Homo sapiens: one gene and its partners. The protein of the gene in region 7 interacts with the protein of the main gene of each other region in a pairwise test. Each region holds a gene or a part of one and is shown on either strand. Other genes may lie near its edges.

Region 1 (2,479 bases), on a different chromosome or scaffold from region 7:
TTTGTTCTACAGAAAATCATGTGGACAAAACCATTGTCATGTGTAGAGATGATCAAAGACCGACTATGCAACCAAAAAATGTAGAAAAAGATTATAGATGAGGATGATGATAAAGGTATATTATTGTCTTGATTTTGTGACATCTTGGGTTTTGTTAACTATGGAAGTTTTTATTCTAAGTTAATATCCATGTTTATATCTATTATTATATTCCTAATATTGTGTTTTTAATGAGGATCTCCAAATTATACTTTTCAACACCACAAAACCTAAATCCACCTCTTTAAAGAGGGCTGGGACAGAGTCACGAAAAACATAGAAGCTGGTGTTACCCCGCAAATGCTCAGAAGGCAGTCAACATTTTGAGGTGGGGGTTTAGAGGTGTTGTAGACAGGTAGGCTCCAGAACACTTACAAATATGAATGCATCATACAAAAGTCATCAAATAAGTTTATTTGAAAGCATTTTGATTTGCTTTTAGGATGGAGTCCTGAGCATCCTTCTGCTATTGTGACTACTCTGACTTGTTTCCTACCTCATCTCAGCAGTGTCTTCTACTTTCCTTTTTTTCACATGGGTCCTTATTGTTGTATTTGTATTTATTTATTTTTTGCTTTTGTTTTGATTTCTTTTTTCTAAATACTAATTTTTTAAAAAAATTTGTTCAAGATGATATCTATGTCTAGTTATCTCTCAATTCCTTTGGCTTACTTTTATATAGGCCCTCGAGACTGGACTTACAAGCACTGATTATAGTAAATAACAGATGGCAAACTATTTTGGAGAGTGTGAACAATAAGATTTCTGCCTCTAGGCCACTGACAAAAAAAGATGAATACATTGCTATCCCCACCCAAGACAGAAAGAATTTCCCAGCCAAAACAGGAGCAGATGTATAAATCATGGGCAGAGAAAATAAGAGGGGTTTTCCTGGACATAATGGAGTAGGGACTAATCACATACTGTCATAGCATTTGTAACATAAATGCATTTCATTGACGCAGAGCTGTAAAAACAAAAGGAGTTCTTCCATAAATATAAGATGAAGGGTGTTAGTTAACTGCAATGACAAAGAAGATTACTAAGTTGCTTATATGAAATGTGGGAGCTTAAATGTGTGAAGGATGACCCTGTAAGGTGCCACACCCACGGCTGAACGTATATAAATGGTCCTGTCCAGATGTGGCATGCAAACTCAGAATCTTCTCAGTGTAACTCAGCTGAACTCACATCTCCCATCAACATGTCCTACAACTGCTGCTCTGGAAACTTCTCCTCCCGCTCCTGTGGTGGCTACCTGCACTACCCAGCCTCCTCCTGTGGCTTTTCCTACCCCAGCAACCAGGTCTACAGCACTGACCTCTGCTCTCCCAGCACGTGCCAGCTGGGTTCCTCTCTCTATAGGGGCTGTCAGCAGACCTGCTGGGAGCCCACCAGCTGCCAGACATCCTATGTGGAGTCCAGCCCCTGCCAGACCTCCTGCTACCGTCCCAGAACCTCCTTGCTCTGCAGTCCCTGCCAGACAACTTACTCTGGGTCTCTAGGCTTTGGATCCAGCAGCTGCCGCTCCCTGGGCTATGGATCGAGGAGCTGCTACTCAGTGGGCTGTGGGTCCAGTGGCTTCAGATCCCTGGGTTATGGAGGCTGTGGCTTCCCTTCCCTGGGCTATGGCGTTGGATTCTGCCGCCCAACCTACTTGGCTTCTAGGAGCTGCCAGTCTTCTTGCTACAGACCAACTTGTGGATCAGGCTTCTACTATTGATCATCTTGTTAAATTGCTGATTTTGTTGGCTAATGCCTTCAATGCCTCTACTCATAACCTTTATTGTCTTCATCATGTACAGAAAGAATTAGCCTCTTATTCTATAATTATCAAGTTCTCAGTTTGTCTTTGTCCCCAAATACTGGCTGGCAGGCTTCATCTGAAAAACTGTAATTGGAGAACTAGCTCAAAATAAATCTTGAAATACACATTAAAAGTAGAATTTATATTATTCGATTTTCTTCCACAATTGTATAAAAAGTCAAATCATTTTAATCCAATAAATCCATTGGTCTCATATTCAGCTATGTTTGTGGTGGTTTTATATTGCTAGGGTTTTGGTTGTGATGTATTAGGCAATTATTATGAAACAATTGGTGTATATATATAGGAATAGGTTTCAAAATCATATGAAGTTTGCGATTCAGACAAACTTTTGGGGGCCTCAGAGATTTTTGTTATTCAAACTACAGGTAGTGGAAGTCTACTAAATTTACAGACTTTTATTCATTAAAATATCAGAATCAGGAATTAGCTTGATCCCCTTATAAAATGTGGATTCTTGTGTCTATGCCAACAAGCATAAGGTAGCAAACTAGTTGATAGTTATATCAGGAATCTGCAGAGAAAAAAATACTATTTAGAACAATATGGTTATAGATATACATAAAAGAAAAATGGAATTGAAGAGAAACAAAAGTGATTTGAAGTAACTTT
Region 2 (2,829 bases), on a different chromosome or scaffold from region 7:
TTTGGGGACCCATGTGTAAGTCAGGATCGCAGGAGCTTAGTTTTATTATTTGCAATATTGAGCAAAAGAGCATGAAGCCAGAGAGGTATGGGGGAGAAAGACAGTGAGGGAACTAGGTGTCATGCTAAGAGGTTTGAATATTTATCTTATGGGAATAGATTATAGGAAGCCATCAAAGGCGTAAGCAGAAACTTGGTTAGGTTTGCAATTAGAAAGAACATTCTGGTGGAAGTGTGTTCATGGGGTAGAGAGATAAGAGACATCACTCCTAATTTTTCCTTTTCAAAACAGCTTTCCCAAGGACTTTTTGGGTCTCTCAAGTACATAGGGTCAGAAGTCTAAAAAGCAGCTTAAGGAATAAACCATCAAACAATCCCTCTACTGTCAGGTAAGAATATATGGTTGAGTATCACTTGTCCAGCTCAGTCATCTTGCAAGCAATTGACGTTGGTTATTTCTGTGTTGAAATTAAGTCATGAAACACAAAGCGCTGAACCAGATTCTTAATTTGGACTTAATCGCATTTATTATAGTGCAAAACAAATACATTCTTCCCAGACCAGAGCAACATTGAATAGCATTGTAAACTAATTTTTTTGATGTCAAGGAAAGATGAAAACAAGATAAAACATGCGAGAGAAGCAGCTTGCATTAGATCAGGCACAGTAAAACTAAGAAACATCAGTTGCTACTAGCAAAGAAGCAAAAGTCCATGGAGTTTGAATTTTTGTTGTGGATGCTCAGAGTGATTATTCACTGGAACAAAGAAGCTGCTGGTTTCACAGTCCAGAGCAAGATGGACGACACGTGCTGAACACATGGGTCAGAGGTTGGCAACCACTGAACAGAGGCCCCAGAGGTCTGAGGCTGCTGGACACAACGTGAAGACTTTGAGGACGATAGGCCAAGCAACTCGAGGGTTGGCATCCAGAAGTGAGGAGGTTTTGGGGCTGGCAACTCTTGGACAAGCAGAATTGGGGGCGATAGGCATTGGGCACACAGTCTCCTATGGGCTGGTAACTATTGAGCAGCGGCCTCAGTGGACGACAGCCGCTGGACACATACCTCTGTGGTCTACAGGATACTGGAAGGCAGGAACTGGAGAAGAAAGAAGCAGGAAGAAAACTGCTTCCTTGGCAAGGCCTGGGCACGTAGTAAGCAGTGGAAGAACCGCAAGAGGTTTCAAGATTGCCGGTCTCACAGTGGACCGGCTGGCAGCTGGTTGGTTCACCGCAGGTCTCTTGGCAGTTGTCTGTGACCCAGGTATGGTCTTGAGAGCTAGTGGGTAAGTAGAGGACATCTCCACAGCTCACGCTGGTAGGGCAGAGGTCGATGGAGGTGAGAGGAATATGGCGGGAGGTTCTGAGAGATCCTGAGTTGGAGTTTCCCGAGCAGTAGTTGGGGCAAGACATAGTGAGGTTGTGAGAGCAGGCTGAAGTTGAGGCAAAGAAGTGAGTGTCTGAAGTTTGTTCTGCCCTTCCTTAGCTTGACCCTTTATTTATCCCTAGAAGGTGGTGCTTCTGCGTGCAGACTCTTCCTCTTGTTGTATGAAGATGCATCAGAACTCTTTATTATAGCCAAGGAAGTGAGGCTTCCACCCTCCATAAAACTGGATGCTCCTTGCAATGCCATCCATTGATTACGTCTATCTATAAACCAATGCGACTGAGTTTTAATAGGATCTATCCTTCTTAAATTATCCAAACAAAACAGACACATTTTAAAGCCTATGTGCTTATTCCAATTATAACCACCATTGCACAAACATTCTTAAGATTCCTCTCTTAGAATTGTCTTTGAAAGTTGTAGCAACTTCTTTGAAACAGTGAGAACTTACATCTTTTTGAAGAAAAATTCTATTCTTCTTGGAAATTGCCAGAAGTGAGTAACTTGGAACAAGTATAAGAGAAAATGAAAATCCTTGCAAACTATATGACAGAAATATGGACAATTTCAATATGTTTTGCTTGGTTAGAATTTATTTTTCTAAGTTGTGATTTGCTTTATTTCAGAATTCTATTCAGACTTGACTTTCTACCAAAATATCTTTATTCAAAAATATGTGCTCATTTTAGTCATTTCAATAAATAAATAAGCTGAGTGAAGCTGAAACCTTGGCTTATGTTTAAGATATTCTTGAATATAGATAATGAAGTTGGGCCAAGTTAAAATTATGTATCCTACTGTGAACAAAAGCAGAGAAGTAGACCTCTTAAAGAAAGTCAGGCATCTTGACATTTTTCATGATTATTTCAAGGTTATGTATTGCATGGTTTCTCATATTCCAACTGAAAAAATATTGTTCTTGGTTAAAAAATACACTGATTATGACATGAATTTATTTTGCTTTCTACATTGGCCTTGATGTCAATTTCCAAAAAGGAGCTTCTAAACTGCTTTACATAGGGAAAAGCATCAGGATAAATTATTGTTTTCCTAAGTTTTAGTACTTTAAAGGTCATTTGAGAATATGTATTTCTGGTAAAATTGTTTTAAAAAATGTATGATTTTAGTTAGTTTCAACTATCCCTCTATATTTTTCTCATACTGACATACCCAGTGGCTCCAGTAGCTATTTTAATGGGATTTTAAATTATCTGCTGGCTCTAAGTTCCAATTCCTTTTGGCTAGTCAATTTAAATCATAACACTTTCTTCTATTTTGGTGTTTGAGGGACATACTTGTGCTTATCCAGTCTCCCTCTGTCCTGGAGGAGTGAAATCTCTGAAACAGAAAGTTGGTTTCTCAATGAGACAACACTAGACTATTTTACTACTGGGGGAGAAATATAAAAATAAAATGGTATAATCCCGGAGGTCCTGTACTAAC
Region 3 (3,261 bases), on a different chromosome or scaffold from region 7:
CACTGCCAGTTCTGGAGAGGAGCTCTTCACTCCTCCAGTGGTTAAGCCAGCAGGGGCAGGTGGGGAGGACACAGCAGTAGAATCAGCCAACAGCTCATGTTTAGACCTTGGGCAGCCAGGGAAGCCTACTCCTGGGGCCTCCCGGAAGCCATGGAGAGAACAAAGCCATTGCATTTTTATAATAAAATTTGCAAACATATTTAAAAGCCAACAAACTGTTAATGAATCTCTACATTCTCATCGCCCAGCTTCAACAAGGATCAAGTCCTGGCCATTTGACAGCAGCATTTAAAGGCTCTCCTCTACTGTTACTTGGAAATAGCCACTTTCTCCCAAGGTTTCTTATACTCTATGGCACATCTGACCACCAGTAGCAGGCAGAATGATGTCTTCAACCCCAACACCATCAAAGATGTCCACATCCTAATCCCTGGAACGTAGGAATTAGGTTACATGGCAAAGGGAAATTAAGGTTCCAGATGGGATTAAGGTTGCTATTCGGCTGACTTCACAGAGATTATCATGGATTATTCAGGTGGGTCCAGTGTAGTCACCAGGTCCCTTAATGTGGACATGGGAGGCAGAAGAGGAAGTCTGAGTGATACAGTGTAAGAAATGGCTGATTTTGGCTTTGGAGATGGAGGAAGGGGACCATGAGCCAAAGAACACAGGATGCCTCTAGAAGGTGAAAAAGCAGGGAAAGGGATTTTCCCCTGAGGCCCCCAGAAAGAATCACAGCCCTGCTGACACCTTTATTTTAATCCACTGAGACCTGTTTTAGACTTCTGATCTCCAAAACTGTAAAGTAATAAATCCATGTTGTTGTAAGCCATTCGGTTCATGGTAATTTGTCACTGCAGCAGCAGGAATTAGTCAGTATCTCATAAGGATGGCATCCAGGTCCATTTCCCTAGCTAGATCCAGGGTCTCATGTAGGAGCAGCTCCTCAGATGGGGCCACTTCTGCACCCCAGAACCTCCTGCAGGTTGGGGCCAAGGTGAAGGAGATATGAGGATGCATGAGAAAGGGGTGCTGGGAGGAAACAATCCAGCTCCCAAAAAGAAACAAGTGTTTCTGTTGCTGAGAGAGGCAATTAAGAGAGTGGGACCCCAGGGTGGAGGTCCTTGTGTATAGAGAAGCAGGGCTGGGGAGGCTGGCAACCAGGGATGAGCTGTGAGCCAGGACACCTGGGCCAAGAAGGGGCAGGGAGGTCAAGGAAAGGAGCCAGGGCGGGAGACACCCAGCTTCCTCTGGGACATTCATTCAAGTGACACCTGTTGCCACAGACCACATTAGGAATGAGGGTGGAATGTGGAGGTTTATTGTCTTCACAACCACTAGCCCAGCCTGTTTCTGCTGTCCCCCACCCCACTACCAGGATAAAGGGCTGGCTGTCTTGGGGCTGAGGGAGATCGGGTGCTGAGCAGGATGCAGGGCCGCGTGGCAGGGAGCTGCGCTCCTCTGGGCCTGCTCCTGGTCTGTCTTCATCTCCCAGGTATGGAGGCCGTGATGCCCTTGGGCAGGAGGGACTGGAGGTCCCCCAGGAAACAGGAATTAAGGAAAGGGGTAAAGGCAGGAGGGTACACATTTAGGTCCCTGAGGGAAAAGGAAGAATAGGCATAGGGGAAGCAAAGGGAACTGGGGACTCGGGGACTGGAGACCACTGGTTGCTTTATCTTCCCTTTCCCTCAGGCCTCTTTGCCCGGAGCATCGGTGTTGTGGAGGAGAAAGTTTCCCAAAACTTGGGGACCAACTTGCCTCAGCTCGGACAACCTTCCTCCACTGGCCCCTCTAACTCTGAACATCCGCAGCCCGCTCTGGACCCTAGGTCTAATGACTTGGCAAGGGTTCCTCTGAAGCTCAGCGTGCCTGCATCAGATGGCTTCCCACCTGCAGGAGGTTCTGCAGTGCAGAGGTGGCCTCCATCGTGGGGGCTGCCTGCCATGGATTCCTGGCCCCCTGAGGATCCTTGGCAGATGATGGCTGCTGCGGCTGAGGACCGCCTGGGGGAAGCGCTGCCTGAAGAACTCTCTTACCTCTCCAGTGCTGCGGCCCTCGCTCCGGGCAGTGGCCCTTTGCCTGGGGAGTCTTCTCCCGATGCCACAGGCCTCTCACCCAAGGCTTCACTCCTCCACCAGGACTCGGAGTCCAGACGACTGCCCCGTTCTAATTCACTGGGAGCCGGGGGAAAAATCCTTTCCCAACGCCCTCCCTGGTCTCTCATCCACAGGGTTCTGCCTGATCACCCCTGGGGTACCCTGAATCCCAGTGTGTCCTGGGGAGGTGGAGGCCCTGGGACTGGTTGGGGAACGAGGCCCATGCCACACCCTGAGGGAATCTGGGGTATCAATAATCAACCCCCAGGTACCAGCTGGGGAAATATTAATCGGTATCCAGGAGGCAGCTGGGGAAATATTAATCGGTATCCAGGAGGCAGCTGGGGGAATATTAATCGGTATCCAGGAGGCAGCTGGGGGAATATTCATCTATACCCAGGTATCAATAACCCATTTCCTCCTGGAGTCCTCCGCCCTCCTGGCTCTTCTTGGAACATCCCAGCTGGCTTCCCTAATCCTCCAAGCCCTAGGTTGCAGTGGGGCTAGAGCACGATAGAGGGAAACCCAACATTGGGAGTTAGAGTCCTGCTCCCGCCCCTTGCTGTGTGGGCTCAATCCAGGCCCTGTCAGCATGTTTCCAGCACTATCCCCACTTTTCAGTGCCTCCCCTGCTCATCTCCAATAAAATAAAAGCACTTATGGAATTTGCTTCTCCTTGGTTTCTTTGTTTCTGGGCATAAGCTGAAGTGAGTCTGGGCATAAGCTGAAGTGAGTCTGTTCATTCCTGTTTTCTAGCCATCCCCACGGCCCTCTAGGGGCCCCTGCAGACGCTGTCTTGCTATCCCCATCCTTCACAAAGGATCAGTGCCCAAGTGCTTGAGGGTGGAGCCTCAGTCTCACCCCGGCCAGGTGGGAGAGCTGTTCCAGAATTGTGCTGGAATCTGAAAGGGGGAGGAGGGACAGCAGGACTAATTGAGATGGCACCTGCAGCAGGGGGCAAGGATGAGGTCCCAGAAGGCGGCTCCAGGGCCAGGTGGACAGGATTCCTTGCAACTCACAGAAACAGGAAGCCAAAAGTCGCAATGTCTACGCTTCACTTGTCTTTTCTTCCCCGGAAAGTCAAGCTTCTTGGAAGTGGAGGTACATCGACCTCCTCCCTTACAGGCATCATTTAGCACATTGTGTCCCACAGAACCACAGACTT
Region 4 (3,500 bases), on a different chromosome or scaffold from region 7:
CAGTTCCTGTGAGTCAGGAATTTGAGAGTGGCTTAGCTGGCTGGTCTGGCTCAAAGTCCCTCCTAAGGTTGAAGTCACATGTCCACCGGGGCTGCAGTCATCTGAAGGCCTGACCGGGGCTGGTAGATTCACTTCTAAGATAGCTCATTCTCATGACTGGCAAGTTGGGCACTGGATTTTGGCTAAGAGCCTCAGTTCCTACACACATGTGCCTCTCCACAGGGCTGCTTGAGTGTCCTGGCAGCATGACAGCTGGCTTCCCCCAGAGCAAGTGGTCCAAAAGAGCAAAGTGGACTGCAATACTTTTTATAACTTACCCTCAGAAGTCGTACATTATCTCTTCCACTGTATTCTATTAGCTATACAGGAATATCTTTGATTCAGTGCAGGAGGGGAACTACCAAGGGTGTGAATAGCAGGAGTTAAGAATCATTGAGGTCATCTTGGAGGCCAGCTACTATAGCACTCCTTAAAGGAACAAGTGGCAGTAGCAGGAGAATGGAGGAAAGAAGAGAACAGAGAAAGGAAGGACGGGAGAAGGAAATATTTTGATTCCCAAAAGCTGAGACTAGAGAGAAACAATGTACCCAGTTCTCTCCAGAGACTTCTCAGGTCTACCTTACACTAGCATACCTGAAACAAGTCCTGCTTCCTAGACAGGAACTCTAAATGAGTAGCTAAAAGACAGGAAGGCATGAGAAAGCTCCTTTGTGTCCCAGGAAGCAAAACTATCCTCCCTCCCTCCTTGCCCCCCCCACCTTTTCTAAAGCAATGATGGAACAGTTACCTGAGGATGAATCTGTGGCTTGTCGCACGTGGCCTCAAAGTCCAGCACTAAAAAGTAGTGATACCTCTGGGGAGGGAAGGACACCATTGCCGCCATGGATGCGCCAAAGCCGTGGGCCGCCAGCTTTCTGGTGGATATGGAGCAGAACTCCGGAACACCACAGGGAGAAAATAAGTGGGAGCCCAGCACTTTTCTTGCTCTTGAAAGTAAATACGAAGAAAATCGAGCTGCTCCAGTCTGTAAAGGTGCTAGCATTGAACATCCAGAAGCATCTAAAACTTAGGGGAGGAAAGTTTAAAAAAAAAAAAAAAAAAGAAAAGAAAGAAAAAAAAAAAAAGAACAGAGAGCCTGGGTTACTCCCTCCCACTGTGGCCCTGTTCCATCTAGTCTTCAGGAATATCCACGCAACATGGGCCACTCCCCAGTGTTTCTGGGCCCCTTTTCTAAATCATAGTATTCGTTACTAAAGTTCAAGACCCTAATAGCAGCACCTGCAGCATTATTACAGCTCTGAGTCTCCCAGATCATTCTCAAAACAACATGCAACACTGGCCTGCATCTTTAAATGGAGCTCTAAAGTTCAAAAGAGAGAAGAGAGAAAAATTGTGCAGTCACTTCTCAGGTGGCAACAGTTAACATTAAAGCTATGGGTCCAAAGTAACGTGAGGTGACCCTGTTGTACAATGAGTCCTGGAAGCTAAGTAGACTCAGACAAGCAGCAGAAAATGTCCAAGGTTCTTTTCTCAGCTCCACTAGGAGCCATTTGCCCCTGGCTTTCCAGTCTGTATCTTGATGTCTCCACATACCCTCCTCCCCTCTCCCAAGGTGAAGGCAAACAAAGCGAATCACAGGGGTTTGCTCTGACATTCTGGTGATCCCCCAACCCCCACACTAGTAAGTGGCACCCTGGGGGAATGAACAGTGCCTGGAGAGCACAGCTGGCTGCAGCCTTAGGCCTTCTCATTTGCTGCCTTAGACTCGGTCTCTACTCGAGGCCCTGAATGACTGCGGGACTTTTTAAATAGGGAAGAAAAAGAAAACCCAGATGTGGCAGTAATAGGAACATGGCTAAAAGTCTAGTAAAGTTTTCTGAGTGAACATGTGCAAAAAAAAAAAAAAAAAAATCAAATCACTTTTCCTTTAAGTTTTCCCCTTAAATTTGCAGAATGCCTGCTCCTCAGAGGCCTAACTAAATACAAAAATCAAAGCCTAAGTTTTACTCACGAATAACTCAAACTTCCTTAAAAAGAAAAAAGGAACAAAGCAGAAATGTTGTCTTTCTCCCTTTAATACTCAACATTCAAATTTCTCTCAACTTTAATCCTCAAATAAGAAATCTCACTGTACAATACAGTAATGGCCATAGTTTGTGCTTTCCGAAGCCTCATTCCAACACAACCAAAGGCTTGCCTCTGATGGCTGCAAGTGGGCACCTGGCTCCCTTCACATAGGGTAGAGGGATAGCACCCTGTGAAGTCCAGCGCGTACTCAAAGGCAATGAGGCCACTACCACCTGAACAGAAGCAGATAATGCCAAGTATGGCTGTCTTCCCATCTCTCTCCTGACTCACTGAATGAGCTACAGTAACTTGCCTATATATATAGTAGGATATACGCTAGTGTAGGTCCTCAATTTCCCTATCCCTATAATGAGATTTCAGGGGGATTCAGTGGAGCTAAGACCAAAAAATATTTTAAGTTCTTCATGGATCCTGCACAAGCACAGCACTTGTTTTCACCACTGCTTTATAGCCTCACCAAAAATACAGCCAAAACTCAGCCCAGGTAGACAAACGCTGGCTTGAGTTTCAATATGGAGTCTCCTGGAAGGGCAAGAGGGCCAATATCCCTTTGAAAGCCAGAATCTTCTCATCGCCTATTCCTGAATAGTACTGGAAGCCTTAATGAGATGGAAGACACCAGTCTGCTCAAATTACCCATTCTAGTTTGGATCCAAAGTCCCTCAAGGACTTAGACTCTTCTCTAACCCCATAAAAAAGTGTAAAGACTTCTGAAAGTCCTAATGTTCTACAGTGTGCACAGAATATGCGTAGTATATACAGTCAGTCAATCCTGTCTACCAAATACTATAAGCAATTAAGCATGATGAGTAAGGAGGGCTTCCAAGTTTGAATCCTAGCTTTACCACTTACTACCCATGGCACCTTGGGCATGCTGTGTTCTTCAATTCCTCATCTGTAAAATGACAATAACAATAGCACCTACTCCTTAAGTGAGAACAAAATGAGACAACACATGTAAAGCACTAAGACCAGTGCCTGGCATATAACAGCCTAATATATATTATCCTAATGTTATTACTACTATCCTATTGGGCTATGCCCACCTGGCCAAGCCTGGATCCCCAGATTCTGGGCCTACAAATCCAATTAATTCATAAGGCAGCCTCAGAGAGTAATATCGATGTCTTCTGCAACCCTAAAATGCTCCAGACCTCTGACAGAGCATACTATATATACCCTATTCTGATGGCCAGTGGTCCTCTTGCCTGCAGGCCTTGCTTTCTCACCTGATTTCATCTACATCAAAAAGCTTCTTTTGGCCAAGCACAGTGACTGCACCTGTAATCCCAGCACTGTGGGAGGCTGAGGCAGAAGTATTGCTTGAGCCCAGGAGTTCGAAACCAGCCTGGGAAACATAGTGAGACCCAATCTCTACAAAAAATAAATTAAAAATTAGCCAGGCGGGGTGC
Region 5 (3,500 bases), on a different chromosome or scaffold from region 7:
GTTGGTGGGGAGTTCTCAGCAAGGAGGAAGTAGGGGCCAAGGGCCTGACAGACAGCAGCAAACTCCCCCTTGGCATCCAGACAAGTCATTCTCTCCCCGAGGGGCAGCAGAGGTCCCAGGAGGGCCACAGGCCAGTGCCCCCAAGCAGACAGGACACACACACACACACACACACAGTGGCACCTTACAGCTAGACACACACACACACAGCAGCACCTTACAGCTAGAGACACACACCCACACACAGACACACACAACAGCAGCTCAGAGCCAGAGAGGAAACCAAGTCCGCAGGTAAAAATTATACTTTTATTTGAGTCACCAGGAGAAAGATTCACTTGTGGTTCAAGTCAAATGTTCAGAATCATAACAGGCCAGAAAGGTTTGATCCCGAGCACAAGCCCACGAGGGAGGGGACCAAAACAGACCAAAATGAGACAACAACCCCATATAAAAAGATGAACTGGCGGCTTCACACACTCACACACATACACATACACACGGATGAAATGTTTGGACAGAGGCAAATTTCACGTGGTCATTTCTGTTTCTTTTTAAATACAGGTTTGTAGGGTGGTATTTTGTTTTTTCCAGCTATAAAAAAAGGCCCAAAAGTGCATGTGTGAGGGGGGAAAGGCAGAAATTAAGCAATAAAGTCATTTTCCCTGGAGGGACATGAGAGGGAGAAAACAGGAGGCAGTGCTGGGAGAACGCACTTTCCTCACCACTGGGCTTCTTGTTATTCTTAGTATTGGTCCACAAAAGTTATATTCACATTCTAGCTTTGATGCCTCTTTCCTGGGATTAAATGAGCTGAAAGACCTCTGTGAACTGTAGAGAAGACCAGGGGCTCAGCCCAGCCCAGCCCAGCCCCTCAGGGCTCTGTGCTCTTCTAGGGATGGATGGTTTTGGTAAAGAACAGACGCCCAGCAGCCCCCGGTCACTCAGCACCAGTGTGACAGTCCCTCCTCTCTCTGGGGGTGTGTAAGAAAACGGCCCCTATTTTTAGGACAGGAAGAGTAGAGGGAGGGCCTGCAGCAAGATTCCATGACTGGCTTGCCTTATCTGGGAAGGAGAATTAAGCTGAGTGAAAACAGGCTGCTTCTTGCTGCTCCTCCCTTCCACTCACCACTCTCCCAAACTCAGGTCCTCTAAGGGGATGTGTCCCTGACCTTTGGTCCCCAAATCCACATTGTGCTTTGAGATCAAGAGGAAACAGAATGCACCAGCGCCACCCAAGACTCCCAAGAGATTCTCTGCCTCCCCGAGCCCCCAAATCGCCCAATATAAGATATTCCACTTGCCTCCACCTAGGCTGGGGCCAGAAAGGAAAAGGGATGGGTCAGGCAGGGCCTCCCCACCCACAGTCTTTTCCTCAACCTCTCATTCGGGGCAAACATCCCCAAATCAATTAACAAGCAGTTGACAAAAACACCCATGATGACTGATTGTTGAACAGGCCAATACCTTCAGGTCCTGCCCCTCACCTGTGGGTACAAGTGTGCCAAGGGACAAGAGGCCAATGGCAGGGCCTGGTTGGGCTCAGGATGAAAATGGGATGGGGACTCCCAGAGGGTGGCAAGAAAACCAGAGATGAATCAAGTGAGGCCAGGGTTGTCACAGCCACCCATGAGCAGAGAGCAGGAACTGGATATAGCACCGTCTTTCCCTCCCCATCCCCGAGGCTGTGCTTCCAGTTTTGCAGCCCTGGGACCCTCTTTCTTGCTTCAAGGGAGCTTTATGTAAGTGAGGGGGAGGTCTAGGGGAAGAGCCCCCGAGGGAGACACCCACAGGGTGACACTTCTGCCACCCTATTCTGTAGCCCCAGACAGAGATGGGGAAACATATGCCTGGAGTGACAGAGCCTTCCTCCACCGCTTAGCCCCAGCAGGCTGCAGACCCTATGGCAGCCCCAACTCCACACCAACCTCTTACCTTCCACCCTGCACACTGCAAAGGGCAGATTGGTGGGCTTCCTCCACTCAGAGATGGGGGGAAGGAGGAATTTCATTCCAAAGAAAACCTAAGGAACTTCTCTGCCCCAGGAGCCCTCCCCTCTCACTGTGGGTTCTGAGGAAACTCTCAGGGGAAGACAGCTCTTCATACCCTCACATAACCCCACCCACACACAGGCCCAGAGACACCTACAGACACACCCCCGCCCCATCTCTCACACTCACACTCACACACTTGCGTGTCAGACACCTGCAGACATACATGCTCCTGCCTCCGCACACCAGGTCTTGGAGATTTAGTGGTCCCTGCTGACTTTGTGCAGCTCCAAGTCCACTTGGCATTGGGCTGGGGAGGGGAGGTCATGGAAGGCTCTGAGACATCTTCCCATGAGGAGCAGGGAGGAGCGGCCACCTAACCCAGATCCTGGGGGCTGAGGGAGGCTGAAGACCAAAAGGTCCTGAGGCACCCTTGCCCTACACTTCGGGACCATGGCTTCCAGCCTAGGAGGCAGGCAAGGGTCCCTGGAGACTGGGGGTGGGCGTGGGGAAAGGGGCTGCGGAAGAGAACTCCTTGTTCCCCTCCTTCCGGTAGCTGTCCCTAAAATTAAGAAAGGCAAGAACCTGACCCAAGCTGTGCTTCCTCGGGAGCTCTTTGCCCGCTGCAGGTCTGCGTGGGCAGGAGGGCAAAATCACAGTGTGCGAAGGAACGCGCGGGGAGGGGATGAATTCGCCCCACAGCAGGAACCCCATTCTCCTGTTGTTGCCCCTGAGGAGGGAGGTAGGGAGAGAGACCCCAGGTGGGCAGAGCCCCCTCTTTGAGAAAGAGAGGTAGAGCCCATCCCACTGGTCCCTACACAGCGGCAGAGTCCCCATCGCCATCCCAGGAACCAAGAAGTGGATCCCACTCTGGGGAATGTAGGGAGCCCCTGACCTGGGGTCCTGGCAGTCAGGCTCACCCCAGCCCTGGAATGTGTGGGTATGTGAGGAGCTGGGCAGGAGGATGTGAGGGGAGAGAACAGAGGGGCAGGTGAGGCCCACAGGCCAACAGGTCTCCCATTCCAGCCCTGCCTCCCCCAGAGAGGCCCATGCCCGTTCCATCCAGAGAGAAAACCAAGAAGTCGATCAAGGGGGAAGCCTGCCAGAGGAGGGAGCCCGCAGAAGTGGCAGAAGAAGGCTTCAGTTGGCAAAAGAAGCTGGAAGAGGGGTAGGAATCACAAGCTGTCGCAGGTTTTAAAAAACAGAGACACTGAAGAATGGACGGGTCACGCCCAGGACGGATGCGATGCCGTGGAATGTGCTGAAGACAGATGGGGGCGCTGCGGGTTCAGATGGCCTCCACGTAGTTGGCCGGCAGCATCCCCGTGTCGCCGGTGCGCTCCACCGTCCCGTACATCCAGCCGTCGTCGATCTGCTGCACGTTGACGATGGTGTCCCCGTCCTGGAAGGAGACCTCGTCCTCGTCGGCGGCGCTGTAGTCATACACCGCGCGGTACCGCTTCTGTGGGGGAAGTGTGGTCAGCCTAGGGCCCTGCATGCCGGCTCACC
Region 6 (3,500 bases), on a different chromosome or scaffold from region 7:
GGATGTATGTCACCTCAGGACCCTGTAATAATTGCATTAACTGCACAAATTGTACAGCATGTGTGTTTGAGCAATATGAAATGTGGGCACCTTGAAAAAAAGAACAGGATAACAGCAATTGTTCAGGGAACAAGAGAGATAACCTTAAACTCTGACCACTGGTGAGCCGGGCAGAACAGAGCCATATTTCTCTTCTTTCAAAAGCAAATGGGAGAAATATCACTGAATTCTTTTTCTCAGCATGGAACGTCCCTGAGAAAGAGAATGCACACCTAGGGGTAGGTCTCTGAACTGGCCCCCCTGGGGCATACCTGTCTCTTATGGTCGAGATTGCAGAGGTGAGATAGACTCCAGTTTCCCATAGCGCTCCCAGGCTTATTAGGAAGAGGAAATTCCCGCCTAATAAATTTTGGTCAGACCAGTTGATCTCAAAACCCTGTCTCCTGATAAGATGTTATCAATAACAATGGTGCCCGAAACTTCATTAGCAATTTTAATTTCGCCTCGGTCCTGTGGTCCTGTGATCTTGCCCTGCCTCCACTTGCCTCATGATATTCTATTACCTTGTAAAGTACTTGATGTCTGTGACCCACACCTATTCGCACACTCCCTCCCCTTTTGAAACTCCCTAATAAAAACTTGCTGGTTTTTGCGGCTTGTGGGGCATCACGGAACCTACCGACATGTGATGTCTCCCCCGGATGCCCAGCTTTAAAATTTCTCTCTTTTGTACTCTGTCCCTTTATTTCTCAAGCTGGCCGACACTTAAGGAAAATGAAAAGAACTTACGTGAATATCGGGGCATGTTCCCCGATAATTATCTTAGGTCACATTTTAGGACACCCAAGGAATCCCCTAGGCTTATGGACATGCTTGTCATCAACCAGCCCTTACACCCCAGCATGTTGTGAGGGTGGTACTGAGGGAACATGGGTGTGAGGAAGAAGGGCAGAGCAAAGCAGATGGGGAGCCCAGGCAGCAGGCAACACATGCCTGCAAAGCAGCTGCGTCCTGGGCCTGAGCCCGCCATGATGCTGTCACTAGAGGGAGAAATTGATCCACCTCCAAGGGCGTCAGGAATGCACTGGCCTAAAACAAGGAAACTGAGGCCCAGAGAGGGGAGAGACTGGCTCCAGGTCACAGAAGTCAAGCCAAGAATGGCTGAGTCCACTGCCATGCTAGTAAGAGTATGAGTGGTCCTCACTATGACCTCAGCACCCTCAATGGTAGGACAGTGACAATACTAGTTCCTCCCTTCTGGTTTAGAAGGGCTTGGCATCTACACCCACTAGATGACAACATCACCTCAGGTGGGCAGAGCTCCACAGTAAAGGCTGGGGCGACAGATGAACCAGAATAGGTGATGACAATGCAGCAATGCAAGAGCCAAGCCATGATGCATCAGCTGAAGGAGGCACCCTGGCTACTTTTTTTTTTTTTTTGTCTGAGACGGAGTCTCGCTCTGTTGCCCAGGCTGGAGTGCAGTGGCACGATCTCGGCTCACTGCAAGCTCCGCCTCCCGGGTTCATGCCATTCTCCTGCCTCAGCCTCCCAAGTAGCTGGGACTACAGGTGCCTGCCACCAAGCCCGGCTAATTTTTTGTATTTTTAGTAGAGACGGGGTTTCACCGTGTTAGCCAGGATGGTCTCGATCTGCTGACCTCGTGATCCGCCTGCCTCAGCCTCCCAAAGTGCTGGGATTACAGGCGTGAGCCACTGCGCCCGGCCCCTGGCTAATATTTTAAAAAAGAAAAGAGAGGCCAGGCACAGTGGCTCACGCCTGTAATCCCAGCACTTTGGGAGGCCGAGGCAGGCAGATCATGAGGTCAGGAGTTCAAGACCTGCCTAACAGGATGAAACCCTGTCTCTACTAAAAATACAAAAGTTAGCCAGACGTGGTGGTGCACGCCTGTAATCCCAGCTACTCAGGAGGCTCAGGCAGGAGAATCGCTTGAACCCGGGAGGCAGAGGTTGCAGTGAGCAGACATCGCGCCACTGCACTACAGCCTGGGCAACAGAGTGAGACTCCGTCTCAAAAAAAAAAAAAGGAAATAAAAGAGAAAGACAAGAGTAAGGTGTCTGGCAGGGGCAGATAAAGTGGGAATCTCCGCCTACCGGCACCCTCCACAGCATAAAAATAGAGTAGCCAGGGCTAATGCCAGTGCAGTATGAAAGGGGACAGGACAGGCCACACATGGCGCTGTCTTTAAAATGACAAGGTCTGTAATCCTAGCACCTTGCTGGGCCGAGGCAGACTGATTGCCTGAACTCAGGAATTCAAGACCAGCCCGGGCAACATGGTGAAACCCCGCCTCTACTAAAATACAAAAAATTAGCCAGGTGTGGCAGTGTGCACCTATGGTCCCAGCTACTTTGGAGGCTGAGGTAGGAGAGTTGCTTGAACACAGGAGGCAGAGATTGCAGTGAGCCAAGATCACGCCACTGCACTCCAGCCTGGGCGACAGAACGAGACTGTCTCCAAAAAAAAAAAAAAAAAAAAAAAAAAATTGAGAAGGCCTTCAACCAAATGCAACCTGCAGATCCTGCTTGGCTTCTGAAGAAACAAAGTAACTGTAAAATGAAATTTATGAGCCAAACTGGGGAAATCCAAACACTGACTGGACAACAGATGACACTAAAGAATTTTTGTTAGTTTCTTAGGTGTGAAAGTTCAACAATGGTTAAGTTTTGTAAGAAAAGATTCTATTTTCTATTAGCTGGGCATGGTGGCAGGCGCCTATAGTCCCAGCTACTGCGGGGGGGCGGGGGGGAGCTGAGGCAGGAGAATGGTGTGAACCCAGGAGGCGGAGCTTGCAGTAAGCCGAGATCGCGCCATTGTACTCCAGCCTGGGTGACAGAGTGAGACTCCATCTCAAAAAAAAAAAGAAAAGATTCTATTTTCTTAGCAAAACAACTGATATACTTACAGACACAGCTACACAGGATGAACTGCGGTAGAAACAAGACCGGCCACAGCTGCAAACTGCAGGTGCAGGGCAGGAGCATACATGGACTCACTCTATTACTCTCTCCACCTTTGATTATGTGGAAACATCCAACAAAGAAGGTGGCTTTAAAAAATGAGTAAAGGCTGGGCGCGGTGGCTCACGCCTGTAATCCCAGCACTTTGGGAGGCTGAGGCGAGTGGATCATCTGAGGTCAACAGTTTGAGACCAGTCTGACCAACATGGTGAAACCTCATCTCTACTAAAAATACAAAAATTAGCCGGGCGTGGTGGTGGGCTCCTGTAATCCCAGCTACTCGGGAGGCTGAGGCAGGAGAATTGCTTGAACCTGGAAGGCAGAGTTTGCAGTGAGTCGAGATCGTGCCACTGCACTCCACGCTGGGCAACAGAGCTAGACTCTGTCTCAAATAATAATAATAATAATAATAATAATATGAATAAATAAATAAATAAGTAAATAATGAGTAAAGCAGCCAGGCGCAGTGGCTCACGCCTGTAATCCCAGCACTTTGGGAGGCTGAGGCAGGCAGATCAC
Region 7 (3,500 bases):
TCGAAGTCCTGAGAGAACCTTGAGAAAACCGCCCGGGGGCTCTACCAGCACAGGCGCACAACCCTCTCCTCGGCACACTACTTTGTTCTTAAAACTGCACTGACTCGGCCGGGCGCAGTGGCTCACGCCTGTAATCCCAGCACTTTGGGAGGCCAAAGCGGGCGGATCACGAGGTCAGGAGATCGAGACCATCCTGGCTAACACGGTGAAACCCCATCTCTACTAAAAGCACAAAAAATTCGCTGGGCGTGGTGGCAAGGGCCTGTAGTCCCAGCTACCCGGGAGGCTGAGGCAGGAGAATTGTGTGAACCCAGGAGGCAGAGCTTGCAGTGAGCCGAGATCACACCACTACACTCCAGACTGGGCAACAGTGCAAGATTCTGTCTTAAAAAAAAAAAAAACAAAACAAAACTGCACTGACTCTTCATGGGAAACCCAGAGGGAGAAAGCATTAGACACCCAGAGTCTCAGCCTCAAGACACCTAAGACTCCAATCCTGGATGAGCCACTAGCCCAGCCCGTTAAGCACAAGGCCTAGAGCACCTTCGCAGGCAGGGAGAGCCAGCAGCGAAGTCCAGTCTGGGGACCTCCTCAAGGACCACTTCCATTTCTCTACACTGCCCAATAAGCTTAAAAGATATTTGACGCCGGGCACAGTGGCTCATTCCTATAATCCCAGCACTTTGTGAAGCCAAGGTGGGAAGACTGTTTGAGCCCAGGAGTTCAAGACCAGCCTGGGCAACATAGCAAGACACTGATTCTACAAAAAAATACAAAAATTAGCCAGGCGTGGTGGTGCACGCCTGTAGCTACTCAGGAGGCTGAGGCAGGAAGACCGCTTGAGCCCAGGAGGTCAAGGCTACAACAAGCTGTGATTAAGTCACTGCACTCCAGCCCGGCAGACGGAGAAAGACCTGTCTCAAAAACAAAAACAAAAAGCTATTTGAGGCGGGGCACGGTGGCTCACACCTGTAATCCCAGCACTTTGGGAGGCTGAGGTGGGCAGATCACTTGAGGTCAAGAGATCGAGACCAGCCTGGCCAACATGGTGAAACCCTATCTCTACTAAAAATACAAAATTTAGCTGGGTGCAGTGGTGGGCGCCTATGATCCCAGCTACTTGGGAGGCTGAGGCAGGAAAATGGCCTGAACCTCGGAGGTTGAGGTTGCAGTGAGCCAAAATTGCACTACTGCACTCCAGCCTGGCTGACGGTGAGATTGGCTCAAAAAAAAAAAAGCTATTTGAAATTCCACCAAACATTAACAAACCAGGTTCTCATTTGTCACTTTCAATAAAATGAATTAATGTTAACACTGACCCATATGGGCCCAGAGTTCTCCAGCTTGGCTAACAGTTTAGGGGAGGGTTACCAAGTTCCTTCCAATGATGCTCCACCAGCGGCTCTGTTGGACTCGCCTTGGAGCACCCAGTGGTTTGAGGAACACTTGGATCTTGCCTGCAGGCAGATGCCCACAGACCCTGCAGGCCGCTTACCAAGATGCTTAACCCATAACCCGACACACAAAAGCAGTTATCTAGATCAAGTTTTTATAATGCAAGTTGTAGGACACTAGAGTTTTAAAAACACCAACCAGGTCAGGAGTCCGCACACTTTATGAAAACCCAAGTATTACGGTATTTAAGAAGAAAAACTGTGCGCGCACACACACACAGCCAGCTTCCAGTTTAGCCAGCTAAGGACCTAAAGCTTCATTAGCAATTATCCCTGCAACTTTAGCAATTCAGTATTCATTTTATACCTAAAAGTCTGTAATCCGAGCTATTGTCTGTAATCCCAGCTACCTGGAAGGCTAAGGCAGGACAATCACTCGAACCCAGGAGGTGGAGGTTGCAGTGAGCCGAGATTGCGCCACTGCACTCCAGCCTGGGCAACAGAGCAAAACTCCATTTAAAAAAAAAAAAAAGACCTAAAACACAGAATTTCAGTAACTAATTCAGAATTCAGTAACTGGAAATAAATGACATCCACTTCTTTTCTCACAAAAGAGAGGGACTGATACTTTTCCAAAGTTCTACAAGCCCCAAGTTGTTCAGGACTTGCATAATGTAAGACTGCAGACAGTGCAGGCGGCTCTACTCTATACATCCCTATATATGCCATGTACACGCCTTTCTGCCCAAAATACATTAGGACACTTGGTGCTCACAGGTGAATAATTCCTTTAACATAGAGAACTGAAAAAAACACTGAAAACCCATCTATTATCAACTGACATTTCAGGAAGGGATATTTTTTAAAAAGCAGGAGAGAATCTCAGGATGAACTCTCTCGAATAAAGGAAGCATTATGAAGTATGTCAGCATCATCATTTTCCCATTGCTGGTGCCAGTTTACGGGCATCTGAGCCCTTCTGAAGAGCAAACACACTCAATCCCGTCAGACATCACATGACAGCACAGACTCAGGAGTTTGGCTACAAGTATCCCAGGAAATCAGGACTGTCTCAAAAAGGCCCAGTCAATGAATTTTTGATATAGGATCCATATTTGTCATTATAAAATGTCTGGATTCCAAACCTACCCCACCACCACCATTTTCTTTACGACCTAGATGGAGTGAGTTTGTTTCCAAAAACTGCAGGATACTGGGTTTTTAAAAGAAAAATAAAGCAACGACCTCCAGATCAAAGACCAGAGATTCCCAACTACTGAGGGACAGTGCCCTGGGAAGCAAGGGCCCTTGGCCAGGTGGGGTCTCGATGCCCTACGTGCCCACCGCAGTGCTTCGTGAATATCACCTAAGTGTTCCTCATGGACGGAGGCTGGGAAGCACTGTTCCAGAAAGTATCACAATTCAAAAAGGAGAGGAGAAAGTTACCCTCAAATTCTTTGTAACAGAAAAACAGAATGTGTACACTGTGGTCCCAATTATTCAATTATAATTGGAAAGTGATCAAAGTCGTTCGGTGACATCTACCCAAATACCATCACTGGTTACTAGCAGTACTCTCCGCAGGGAAAGCCCACGAGGCTGCCAGGACCTGGGCCCGCCCACCTGCGGCCAACTGGGAGCTGCCTGTCACGAGACTCAGCTCGGCGGACCTGCCGCATCTGCTCACCACCGGGCCACCTGGTCTAAGTACGGCACCAAGGACACATCTGCATGGCAGTTGCCTGCAACACCCAGCCTCACCTTGCGCACCACCTCCTCCTCCTCCTGGCGCTTCTCGTAGTGAGCAAAGTCGTCGAAGATGGAGGTTGTGTGCTTGTAGGAACTGATAATTTTCAGCACTTGCTTGGCTTTTTCTAAGGGCACCTCCTGGGTGTCCCGGGAGTTTGTGACCGGTTTGTTGTCGTTATTCTCCAGCCTGATGTGCCGGAGCTGGTTATTGGGTACATCCTTAACAAAAATCCACTGGACATCAAACTTCCCCTTCCACTTGTCCTGAGACCAGACCCCGGCACTGGTGCCGTAGTCCACGGGGGACTTCATCTCGGCCACCCCACAAAAATGCCCACTCCCATTGACGCTGAAGAG

What was found.
Region 1: the proteins of YTHDF1 (region 7) and KRTAP13-1 interact in a two-hybrid assay, tested with the Homo sapiens proteins (one large-scale study listed by BioGRID).
Region 2: the proteins of YTHDF1 (region 7) and KRTAP26-1 interact in binary tests that used the Homo sapiens proteins (3 or more experiments, as listed by UniProt).
Region 3: the proteins of YTHDF1 (region 7) and C6orf15 interact in binary tests that used the Homo sapiens proteins (3 or more experiments, as listed by UniProt).
Region 4: the proteins of YTHDF1 (region 7) and ERI3 interact in a two-hybrid assay, tested with the Homo sapiens proteins (one large-scale study listed by BioGRID).
Region 5: the proteins of YTHDF1 (region 7) and LASP1 interact in binary tests that used the Homo sapiens proteins (3 or more experiments, as listed by UniProt).
Region 6: the proteins of YTHDF1 (region 7) and BICD2 interact in a two-hybrid assay, tested with the Homo sapiens proteins (one large-scale study listed by BioGRID).

Annotation. Positions count from the first base shown.
Region 1 is NC_000021.9:30,394,844-30,397,322, forward strand, and holds KRTAP13-1 (keratin-associated protein 13-1), read left to right. Parts: upstream 1-1,187; 5' UTR 1,188-1,243; coding exon 1,244-1,762; 3' UTR 1,763-1,979; downstream 1,980-2,479. UniProt on the Homo sapiens protein: In the hair cortex, hair keratin intermediate filaments are embedded in an interfilamentous matrix, consisting of hair keratin-associated proteins (KRTAP), which are essential for the formation of a rigid and resistant hair shaft through their extensive disulfide bond cross-linking with abundant cysteine residues of hair keratins.
Region 2 is NC_000021.9:30,318,624-30,321,452, forward strand, and holds KRTAP26-1 (keratin-associated protein 26-1), read right to left. Parts: upstream 1,693-2,829; 5' UTR 1,413-1,692; coding exon 780-1,412; 3' UTR 501-779; downstream 1-500. UniProt on the Homo sapiens protein: In the hair cortex, hair keratin intermediate filaments are embedded in an interfilamentous matrix, consisting of hair keratin-associated proteins (KRTAP), which are essential for the formation of a rigid and resistant hair shaft through their extensive disulfide bond cross-linking with abundant cysteine residues of hair keratins.
Region 3 is NC_000006.12:31,110,723-31,113,983, reverse strand, and holds C6orf15 (uncharacterized protein C6orf15 precursor), read left to right. Parts: upstream 1-1,408; 5' UTR 1,409-1,428; coding exon 1,429-1,495; intron 1,496-1,692; coding exon 1,693-2,603; 3' UTR 2,604-2,761; downstream 2,762-3,261.
Region 4 is NC_000001.11:44,338,258-44,341,757, forward strand, and holds part of ERI3 (ERI1 exoribonuclease 3), read right to left. Parts: intron 1,066-3,500; coding exon 788-1,065; intron 1-787.
Region 5 is NC_000017.11:38,918,558-38,922,057, reverse strand, and holds the end of LASP1 (LIM and SH3 domain protein 1), read right to left. Parts: intron 3,454-3,500; coding exon 3,280-3,453; 3' UTR 288-3,279; downstream 1-287. UniProt on the Homo sapiens protein: Plays an important role in the regulation of dynamic actin-based, cytoskeletal activities.
Region 6 is NC_000009.12:92,754,834-92,758,333, forward strand, and holds part of BICD2 (protein bicaudal D homolog 2), read right to left. Parts: intron 1-3,500. UniProt on the Homo sapiens protein: Acts as an adapter protein linking the dynein motor complex to various cargos and converts dynein from a non-processive to a highly processive motor in the presence of dynactin.
Region 7 is NC_000020.11:63,199,132-63,202,631, forward strand, and holds part of YTHDF1 (YTH domain-containing family protein 1), read right to left. Parts: coding exon 3,156-3,500; intron 1-3,155.